2 separate regions of the Homo sapiens genome follow, and region 2 is linked to region 1. Evidence: fine-mapped expression QTL. A gene starts in region 1. The other region holds a variant in brackets. All regions are shown on one strand. Distances are between the middles of the regions.

Evidence for each region. PIP is the estimated chance that this variant, and not a neighbour inherited with it, causes the effect.
Region 2: its variant is the best candidate, but not a certain one, in a credible set for the expression of LINC01065 in testis (GTEx, PIP 0.81).

The regions. Positions count from the first base shown.
Region 1 is chr13:53,149,265-53,154,653 of GRCh38, reverse strand. It overlaps LINC01065 (long intergenic non-protein coding RNA 1065), which reads left to right and starts at 2,754. Exons shown (of 5, transcript NR_125788.1): 1 at 2,754-2,950; 2 at 5,150-5,297.
Region 2 is chr13:53,382,915-53,388,303 of GRCh38, reverse strand. No RefSeq gene overlaps it. Among named protein-coding and RNA genes, the nearest start is that of LINC01065, 230 kb to the right of the region's middle. The variant T/C (reference allele first, on the strand shown) is at 2,330.

The DNA of each region.
Region 1 (5,389 bases):
GATTTGCTTCATATTAGTGCAATGAGTTTCTAACTCATTGACTTTCTGAGCCTTGCACACACCAACACAGAGCATTCCCTTTGGATATATTTTTCACTTTTGGTCTCTCATGTTCTTTTCTGTGTATCAGATGTGAAATGAAGTAATGGCACTAGCTTTTAATATGGTTTTCACAAGTGGTTTTGAAAGCAATTCCAGATGACAAGAACCAAAATATTTGGAGTGATGACAGATCTCTGATAATGTAGACTCTATAGTCTCCCCGGTAACCACTTTAAAATGCAAATATTTTTAGTTTATCTAAGTTCTGTTATTTTTAAATCTCACTAGTTTGTAGTCCTAGCTAAGATTCTTTGGGGTTTTTTCTGTTGTTGTTGGATTTTTTTTGTTTGTTTTGAGACAGGGTCTCGCTTCATCACCAAGGTTGGAGTGCAGTGATGAGATCACAGCTCACCGCAGCCTCGATTTCCCAGGGGCTCAGGTGATCCTCCCACCACAGCCTCCCCAGTACCTGGGACTACAGATGCATGCCACCATGCCTGGCCCCAGATAAGATTCTAAATATACATTTTGCTTCTTCTTAAGGCAAGCCAGCCATTGCCAACATAGAGCAACAAAATGCACATTGCTTTGCTAGGGACCTTACAGAGTAGATAAATGACACAATGTCTTCCCTCTAGGGAGGATAAAAAGAATAATGAAAGATGTGTTTTTTCCATAAATGCATATATTAACATTTGACTTCACAAAAAGTGCTCATGTAAAGAACAATACTTTCCCTTGAAGTTAAGCAATTTTATGATGGATCTAACAGTACAGGGAAAAAGGTCTTGGGGCTAATAATAATAATTAGCACTTATGTTGGTACTTTCTGTGTTCAAAGCATTTTGTGGAAGATTAACTCGTTATTCTTCCCAGCGTTCTTGTCAAGTTTATAAAGCTTTAGACTGTTCTGATGTCCTCTCCAGTACAATTCCATATAATATGGGAACATTCATTTGATTTTTACATATAAATACTACTGGAGTTCTGATTATCCCACACTGTGTCTGATACCCAGTAAACTCACAAACTTTGGTGGAAAGAATGGATGGTACTTCCTGGATCCTTATTTCAAAGATCCATTCAAAATTCAAGAGTCTGACCAAAGAATGGATTATCACTTTAAGCATCCAACTATATTTTATCAAAATGGTCTCATTTACATTTTTCTTCATTTAAATCATGAGTTCCTCAAGGACAGGAACTGTGTGTTTTTCATGCTTGTTCCAAGGATCACCTAGGCATGTGTTGGCTCAGAATGATGCTTAGTAAGCCTGTGTTGAACAATAAAAATGAATTCTTTATTGATAAGTTCTTATTAAATTGTGAAGAATAAATAGCATGTGGTATCTGTCCTGCCCTCTAGGAATAAGTATGAAAGAGGAAGCAGGACTTATATACAGAAAGCAACTGGACACAAAATAGAAAAATACAAAATACAACCAAGTGCTACAATGTGTGGTTCGAGAAATGAGCGCTAAGGAAAAATTACACTTGTTTTGTTTTGTTTTTTGACTTCTCAGCCCATTAGCTCCACCTCCTTCCTTTGGGTATATGTGTATATATACAGAAAGAGTGAGACAGCTTTTGGCCTGCAATAAAATGTAACAGCCTGTAAAAATATTATATTTTCTACTCTGTTTAATATAGAAAGTTCATTCAGTTGGAAATTATATACAGATTTTTAAGTTTCTTTCTGTACAAAACAACAACAAAACTCCAAACACAGAAACACACGCACAAATACACTGAACTTTAATGGTGATCTTTATTCAAATTACAGTTTCTGTGCACACCTGTAATCCCAGCTACTCCAGAAGTTGATGGGAGCATCCCTTGAGCCCAGGAGTTCAAGTCCAGCCTGGGCAACATAGTGAAATCCCACCTCTCAATCTTTTAAAAAATTAAATTACAACTTCCCATATTATAAAAAAGTACTGCAGCTCCAAGCTTGAATGGAAATTCATTAGATTTTTATAAATTTGAAGGAAGTTTATTTCTGAAAATAAATTTTGTTGAATTTCTTCTTAAGGTGGAAATTTGTTTTTCATTCCTTTTCTTTGCATGTGAGTTTTGTATCAGTTGTGGAACTCTATAGCTCCACTACATATTTGGGTATTTGAATATTTGAATCTGTTGTGCTTTTTCCAGGAAATTCTGAATTTTAGGATAGTCTACAGGTACCATAAATTGAGAAGTCCAAACAATTCATTATCTTCCTTGAAGCCCAAACCTGCCATTTTTCTCAGATAGGAAAGCCACCAAACATAGGGAGCATGCCTGCCACTTCCCTCTGGCCCGTCTCTGGCTCATCCGCCACAGAGACCTATTTATTACATCCCCTGAGTATTCTTCTAATTCCCCCTCCTTTCCATCCCCACTCTTTCAGCCACACTTCAGGACCATGGTCTGTGCATCGCTTAGTCTCATCCTAATTTATCCGCAGCTCCACCCACTCCAACCTCCTCTCCCCTCTCTAAGACAACCTTTACTTCCCCACCTATGCCTGTTCCAATTTACTGTCTCTGAACCCCACATATGCCCTTTTCTGCCCTACATTATGATAACTGGAGCTGGACCTAATTTCTTTCGTTAGCGGGCACAATGTTAGACCTTGTCAGTAGAGGGCGCTAGAGGGACACTGCACAAGGAAGGGGCTTCTCTTCTGGTTCCAGCTCTGTTCTTAGAAAACAATGAGCTGTCTCCTTGCCAACCAGCAGCTCCCTTGGTAGGGGCATGCAGAAGACCTGATGACACAAACCCTCCAAAGAGTTTCACCCTCACCACAACAGGTGGCTTCCTGCTCGGCAGCCCATCCTGCATCACTTCAGTGGACTTCTCTGACATCTACTAGACCACATTAAATGAATCACAGCCTTGAAACTGAACTGGAAGGACTTCCTTCAAGGTTATACTTTCTTTGAATACTGTCTTTCAGCCCTATGCCTAGTGACTGCTCCCTGCGTCTTACCCCAGTTTTCTTGAGAATTCCCTTTATACTTCTTAGTAGATAATACCCTTTAATTAGTTCCTTATTTTTATGTGGTATTAAGTTTTCCCTGTCCAAACTATTAGTCATGTCTCACTTAATGATGGGGATATGTTCTGAGAAATGTGTTGTTAGGCAATTTCATCATTGTGTGAACATCATGGCATGTACTTACACAAACCTAGATGATAGTATAGCCTATTACAACCCTAGGCCATATGGCATAGTCTATTGCTTCTAGGCTACAAACCTGTACAGAATGTTACTGTACTGAATGTGGTAGGTAATTGTAACACAATGGTATTTGTATATACAAACATACCTAAACATAGAAAAGGTACAGTAAAAACAGTGTTGTAATCTATGGGACCACCATCATATAGGCAGTCTGTGTTGGACAGAAATGTCATTATGCGGCTCATGACTATACTATTGTGATTTCTGTCTCCTGACCAAACCCTGACTGCTTTACCACTTTTGTTCTTTCTTTATTTTCTTTCTTTTTTTTTCTTTTTTACAAGGTCTCACTCTGTTGCCCAGGCTGGAGTGCAATGGTGTGATCTCGGCTCACTGCAACCTCCGCCTCCTGGGTTCAAGCGATTCTCCTGCCTCAGCCTCCTAAGTAACTGGGATTACAGGAGCCCACCACCATGCCCAGCTAATTTTCGTATTTTTAGTAGAGACGGGGTTTCACCATGTTAGGCAGGCTGGCCTCGAACTCGTGACCTCAGGTGATCTGCCCATCTCAAAAGTCTAGTTGGGAATGGTAATCACACAGTTTGGCTATCTCCTCAGGTCAGATTACTCAAATAAGGATTAAACTGCTGCTTATCTTTATGCTTGGCAGCATGGTACCTAGCCACGTGGTACCAAGAGTGACTCAGACATGCCTTACCCTCTCTGTGTTACACAGCTCACCTCCAGCTAGAGCTGTTGAACTGTAACACAGAAGCACCCATTTCTCTGCTCACAAAGTGTCATGGTACCCAGGGGCAAAACTAACTCAGACACAATAGTACTCAAGTGTTCTCCATCATTCCAGCTCAATCCAAAGACCCTCAACACATTCCCTGAAATGAGAGATGAAGTGCACTGACAGAATTCAAGGCATGTTTGAGACAAACTTTTCTCCTTGCTTAAGTCTTCTCGGCAATGGTTGGCTCTACCATTTTAAAAGACCTGCAATTGTGTGCAATGAAAGTAGTTCCAGGCTGCTGTATCTTGCTCCCTTTCCCACAGACATCACCAGAAGCCCAATTCATCACATTCTTAACAGCACTCTTCAGATTTATCTGTCAGGGCAAAGGATCCAGATTAAAAATGAAACAACCATTTCACTTGCTTGACAAGGGGAGACCCAGTCTGCCAAATTTCCGTCCCTATCACTGGAGAACAGGACTTTAGGAAATAAATAATAAATGCTTTCTGACCTAGGGCCACCTAGCCTGGAATACTTAGGGGCGTCTTATCTTAGTGCAACAATTATTCCAGTTAATAGGTTAAGGGATATATATAAGATTACCCGTAATCCTTTCACACTGTTGTTCAGGGCTTATTTGAGATGCAGGGCACACATATTTAAGGATTAGCTCCTTCTCTCCGTACTCATACCCTTAGAGTGATATTACTTCCTGCTATCTTCTCTTGTGGAATAGAAATGAAGAATAGTTACACTAGGGGAGTTATTACAATCAGGCTCTTTTATATCTTTAAGGCAATTACAGGCAAAGACAAGAGTGCCTAATGCACAGCATTTCCAGAATTTGTAATTTTGGCATCTCATCTTGCCAAGCCTTGATAACATCCAGATGTTGCCCTATTGAAAGGTGTTAAATAGAATAAACCTCAAGCCAAGAGTACTTCCATGTTATATTTTGGAGACTTCCAAAATGTAAAACATTTTCTCTTTGAAATATCAGAACTTCGGTAGTTTAAGCAATAATGTTCTAGTCTGCATAATGTTTTAATGTCTAATAATAACAATAACAGCAGTAACACTTTGTTTCTCCATTTAAAAAGACTTATATAGTGTTGACTATGTGCTTTTCAAATATTAACTTATTTAATTTTCTATGTGCTCTCTCCTGGTACAACAATCTGCTCCACAAATTTCTCCAGATTTTTATCTAATTCCTGTTGGACAGTGTAAAATGCCACTTCTTCCAGGGTTGCCTGCATATCATCAAAAGGGAAATAGTACTCATCGAAGATGTGCCTTTGCTAGGAACTAGGACAAGGGTGGCCTTTATAAATTCATGAAGAGAAGGTATTGTGTTCATTCACAGACTTTGTGTAGGAATTAGGGAGAAAAATGTAAACCCTAAAGTTAATACTCCATGGGCACATTCTGGGCACAAG
Region 2 (5,389 bases), 230 kb before region 1:
ACAACGGAGGCATCAATTTAGATGCTGCAGGGCAAGGAAAGTAGAACCTTTTATGGGTACCCAACCCCCGCTGAGCTCTGGGGAGAATGGAGAATCACTGTGTACGTTTATGGGATTTGAGAGTAAAGGAGGCCTATGCCTCATTTCTCATGAGGCAGCAAACCCCTAAGAAGAAATTATTGAAACGTATCTAGAGAAGAAAGAACCTTAAAAATTCTCACTACATCCCTGTGGCTCGGTGTGGCCAAAAAGTAATAGAAACATCAAATGAACCTACTGTGACACAGAAGCGGATGAGGCCTCCCACAGCCTCCCAGAGGTCCTACAACCCCAAGTGGGAAATATATCACATTTTCTGTAAATCCCAAGGGGGCAGAAAAGATGCAAAGACAGGCATATCCAATGGGACTTTCAGGATGGGAACAAGAAACAATATAGCAGGTCTTCATAGGTGAGTGACAATTACATGACAACAGTGAGGCTGATGACAGGGATCTGCCCATCCAACATCTCTGTACTGTGCACTTCCCCTCACCCAGAGAACAGATAAAATCCCAGGGAAAGAAGACAGGGAAAGACTGAATTAACTGAACTAACAGGGATTTAAGTTTCTGACATCCAAGAGGATGGTGTTTCATAATAGAAATTACATTAAGTTTTAGGAAAAAAAAGAAGGGAAGTTACATCATTTACTCCCCTGAGTTTATAGACCTGGGCTTTACTCACACAAAGTGTCCAGCCCAGAGTTGACATGGAGTTCTCAATGAATGTAGTTCCTTCCTCTCCTCGTCTTACCTCCTGGATGGACATGATCAGGATTTTGAATGGATATTTAGTATCTTATACAAGACACAAGGGTTGACACACTTTTTCTGTAAAGGCAGACCATAAATATTTCAGGTTTTGCATGCTGTAGGCTCTATTGCAATGACTGTATTCTGCCCTTGTAACATGAAAGCAGCCACAGACAATACATAAACAAATGAGTGGAATGTTCCAATAAAAATTTATTTCCAAAAGCAGGCAATGGCCTAGATTTGGCCTGCAGGCCATAGTTTAGTGACCCCTGGACTAGAGGAAAGGAAAGTGGCTGAAAGAGGCTATTAAAATAATTATGAGATAATATAGACCTGAGTTAAGATAGCACCTGTAGGAATAGAAAGGCATAAATAAATTAGGGAAGAGCAGGCAAGCAGCTGCAGAAAGAAGGATCAGTGAACAATTCAAGTATGATTTCTACCCTTGTAGACTGAAAAAAATGATATAGTACTGAAAAAAATGGAGCAGTTTGAAAAAGTGTGGAATCCTAAGAGAGAATATAAATACCTCCCTTACCACAAAGGGTCTTAGTGCCCTTAATTCTACATATGTAGAATTCAAAAGCAGAAAGAACAAGAAAAACAACTGTTTCTGCAGGTTCAAGCTGCCACACTTCAGCAGTCATAATAGGATAATATAATATTTCACAAGTGCCGTCTGGACTCAGTGCTGAAGTCATGGTTGAAAACTCTTCAATTCCTCATGCAGGCAGTTTGCTGTGCCCAAAACCCAACCACTTTTCTTATCAGACGTCCACTCTCCAGAGCAACTAGGCACATATCCCAACCTCCCCAGGGCCAGGTACCAAACAAGCAGGGACAGCATCTATGCCCCAACTCCCGGGAATTATGCAAATTAGCTGATCCCCAGGAAGCCCCTGAACCTAACTTCCTCTCACTTGCCACACATAAGTCACCTGCTACATTTTCAACTTGCTGTTACCCCATCTCCAGGAGCAATCCTCTGTGTGGCCCTTCATGGCAACCTTCTCTCCTTTGGAGCTGTAAGTAGTAAAGTGTTCTGCCTTTCATCTATCCAATTTGTCATTGTGCTGTATCGTACTATCAAAAGAATCTTTAAATCTTTAAAGCACATAGTTACCTTATAATATTGATTTGAGAGGTGATTGGAGAAGAAAACTTTTCCAAATCTGATTTTCCTCCAATTCTCATTTTAGTCAAACAGTTCCGTCAAACTGAACACTACATGTATAACATAGTACTTGCCCAAACATTTCCAAACAATTTTCCAAAGCAGAAGCAAACATTCAGAGAGAAAATTGAGGGAAGGGACTTGCCATTTGATTATCACAGTACATCTGTTTTTAAAAGTCAGTCCCACAATGTTCCTAACAGGAGGTTATTTTGCTACCCCTAAAATGCAGTCAGCAAATGACATCAAGGAATGAACAGACTCTCCTTGATGAAAACTGGAGGAAGCTTTGCTAGTGGGTGCCTCCACCCATGACTGTCACATGTAAATCACTGATAGGGATTGTGAAGTTCCCTGG[T/C]AGTGGATTTGAGTGCTGTCCCTTCAGGATGTCCATTTCACAGGCATTTGTAATTTGCTGTCTGTAAGACTTGCTTCTTGCCATCTGTTCTGAATTTGTCACCCTTAGTTTACATTACCTAAAGCTGTAAACTAGATTGACATTAAGCATGCAATTTGAGATTTTACTTCTATCAATAAATTCGCTCGTAACCACCAGTTTGGGCTTTATGTAGCTTCTCTCTGCTCTCCAACATTGGTGCACTTAAATACCACTCTAGATGCCCTTCACTTCTGTTTCATAGCCATTTCTTGAATTCCCCTTCATACCCCGTCCTGTCCTCTACCCTCAACATGCTGCTTTCCCCCCATTCCCAGCTTATCCAGCTCCTCCTTGAGTTCCTTTTCTGAGCCCTCTTTTTTCCCACCTTCTTGGCCTTTTCTTCATTTCTTATTCAGTACCTCCAAGAAACTTCTCATTGCTTGATCTCTTTATTAAAATAATTCTCCAAATACCAATATCTAGGGCCTCCTCAAGGCTTTGTTCTCTAGAAATAAAAGATTTTGTCTCAAAAAGTAACAGAAAGAGTATGAACTTCAGAATTTGGACCCTATATTTTATCAGCTTAGTTTCCTGCCAAGTCACTTAAACTCTCCGCTGTGGTCTGAATGTTGGAGTCTCCCTCACATTCACATGTTGGCACTGAACCCCCAGTGTAACAGTATTAAGAGGTCAGCCTTTAGGAGGTGATTAGTACGAGGTTAGTGCCCTTATAAAAGATGTTAAAGGGATCTGCCCTCCCATCTGCCATGTGAGGACGCAGTGAGAAAGTTCCATGTTTGAAACAGAGCAGGCCCTCACCGGATATTGACTCTGGTGGTGCCTTGATCTTGGACTTCCCAGCCTCCAGAACTGTGAGCAATAGATTTTTGTTGATTATAAATTACCCAGTCTAGGGTACTTTGTTATAGCACCAGGAATGGACTAAGACATTCTATAAGTCTCCGTTTATTTATCTATGTAATGGGGATAAAAAAGTTACTATCACACAGGATTAATGTGTGGTAGTAACACACATTAAGATGTAAGACATCTAACATAGTGTTAGATGCAAAGTAGTGCCCAATAAATGTTATCTATTGTTTTTAGCAAAGGTTTATATTCTAATTAATGTTCTAGTTGAGTTTAAGTTATTGGCTTATTTACTGTCTATACATTGGATTCATAATACTGTTTTTTCAAAGTATGACTTAATTATTCCATCACATTATTTTATATTTATGGGTATACTTTGCAAATCTGTTGAAAGAATTTTAATTATGAAGGCTGAGGTAGAATAAAAATAGGATCTTCAATGTAAAGAGATAACCCACTAGTTGGACCAAGAACTAGGGTCTTTATTTTAACAACTATCAACTGAAAGCTAATTTTAGAAATCCCAATAAGTTATATTGCATTTTGACACTCCTTGGGAAACTTTGATCTGAGCTCAGAAGTTTCCAGTTCTACCACAGTGAAGGTGTTAACTTATACTCAGTTTGAAGAGGACAAAACACCACCATATTTGGGGTTATTTGTACAATTGTTTGGGACTAATTTTATTTTATTCCTTTTGCCCTTTCTTTATATTCTGACCTCAAATACTGCCCCTAAAGAAGAGAGCCATCACCTAGGACCCTGGATCATGGCAATAGCTAGGGTTGTCCTGACTTTCACCCAAGGCAGAGTGCATACAACCCACAAATATCTAATCTATGAATTCTCTTATTGTTACACAATAGGAAAAAAAATTATTTTAAGCCCAAGGCCTATTTACTGCCTAGATTTACTCAGGACTGAAGCTCTAATTAAGGAAGAAGAAGGAGGAGGAGGAGAAAGATGCAGGAGGGAGAATCGCAGTCATTTGTTTTTTAAAAATATATATACAAAAGAATTATGAAGGAAGAAGGAGGAGGAGGAGAAAGATGGAGGAGGGAGAATCACAATCATTTGTTTTTTAAAAATATATATATAAAAGAATTATCATAGAAACAAACATTCAGGTAGAAAATTCAGAAAATGCAAAAATATGCAATGCACATAAAAATGACCCAAAATATACTACTAAATGATAACAATTAATCATTGTTAATAATTTGATACTTTTTCACAGGGTTTAGTATACATATTCTCACACACCAGCATAGTATGAATTGAATTATTCATGCATTTTAGCATTTAACTTGCGTACAGATTTCAGGACCTATTTATTGCTTTTCTCAATATGAATCATCATACCTCATTAAATTCCTATAATAGCAAACTGTTCTATTTAACTGAATTAATATTTAGAGGCTTAATAATAGAAAGAGGGGAATCATTCTTGAAGAAAAGCAGGAACATTTCACAATTCTTGACCCAGCCATCTTCAATGGATTTCTAGGGATCTGATAGCTAGTTTAAAGACAGAATGGTTTGAATTTCCAAAAATCTACATATAGGCCTTTCCTTTAATTCTTTCCTTTAGTCTAACCCAATGGTTTTCAAATTTCAAAATGTATAAGAATTACTCAGTAGTTTGTGTATACATAAAACTGTGTATTATTATTTATGGGTGAATTAAAATACCTCTAAGCATAATTTTCACTATAAGTGATTTCCTAATTAATAGATGACTTAATTTTATGTAATATAACTTTACTATATGCACACATACATTACTGTTACACAATGTATGTTATTAAATAACCTACTGATTTAAGTTAATACAGACATTTTTCCATGTTATTAAATATTTATCTACAACATTCCTATTAATGGCTGCATATTATTTCAATCTATGAATGTACCATACTTTAATCAATACTCTACTTTTGAAGTTCCTAAGTTGTCATTAAGCAATTACCCCTCTTAACATGCCAAAATGTGAGTTCAGCTCGATTAAAGTGAAAATACCCACAATAATTCAGAAGGAATTAGCACAGCTCTATAGCCCCCTTCTCCATCTTATAACAAAAACTCAGATGGAGACTCCAACTCCAGGAAAACATAAACAAATTAATTATGTTTGGGGTTATTTCATGTTCCTGAGAGAGATAATTT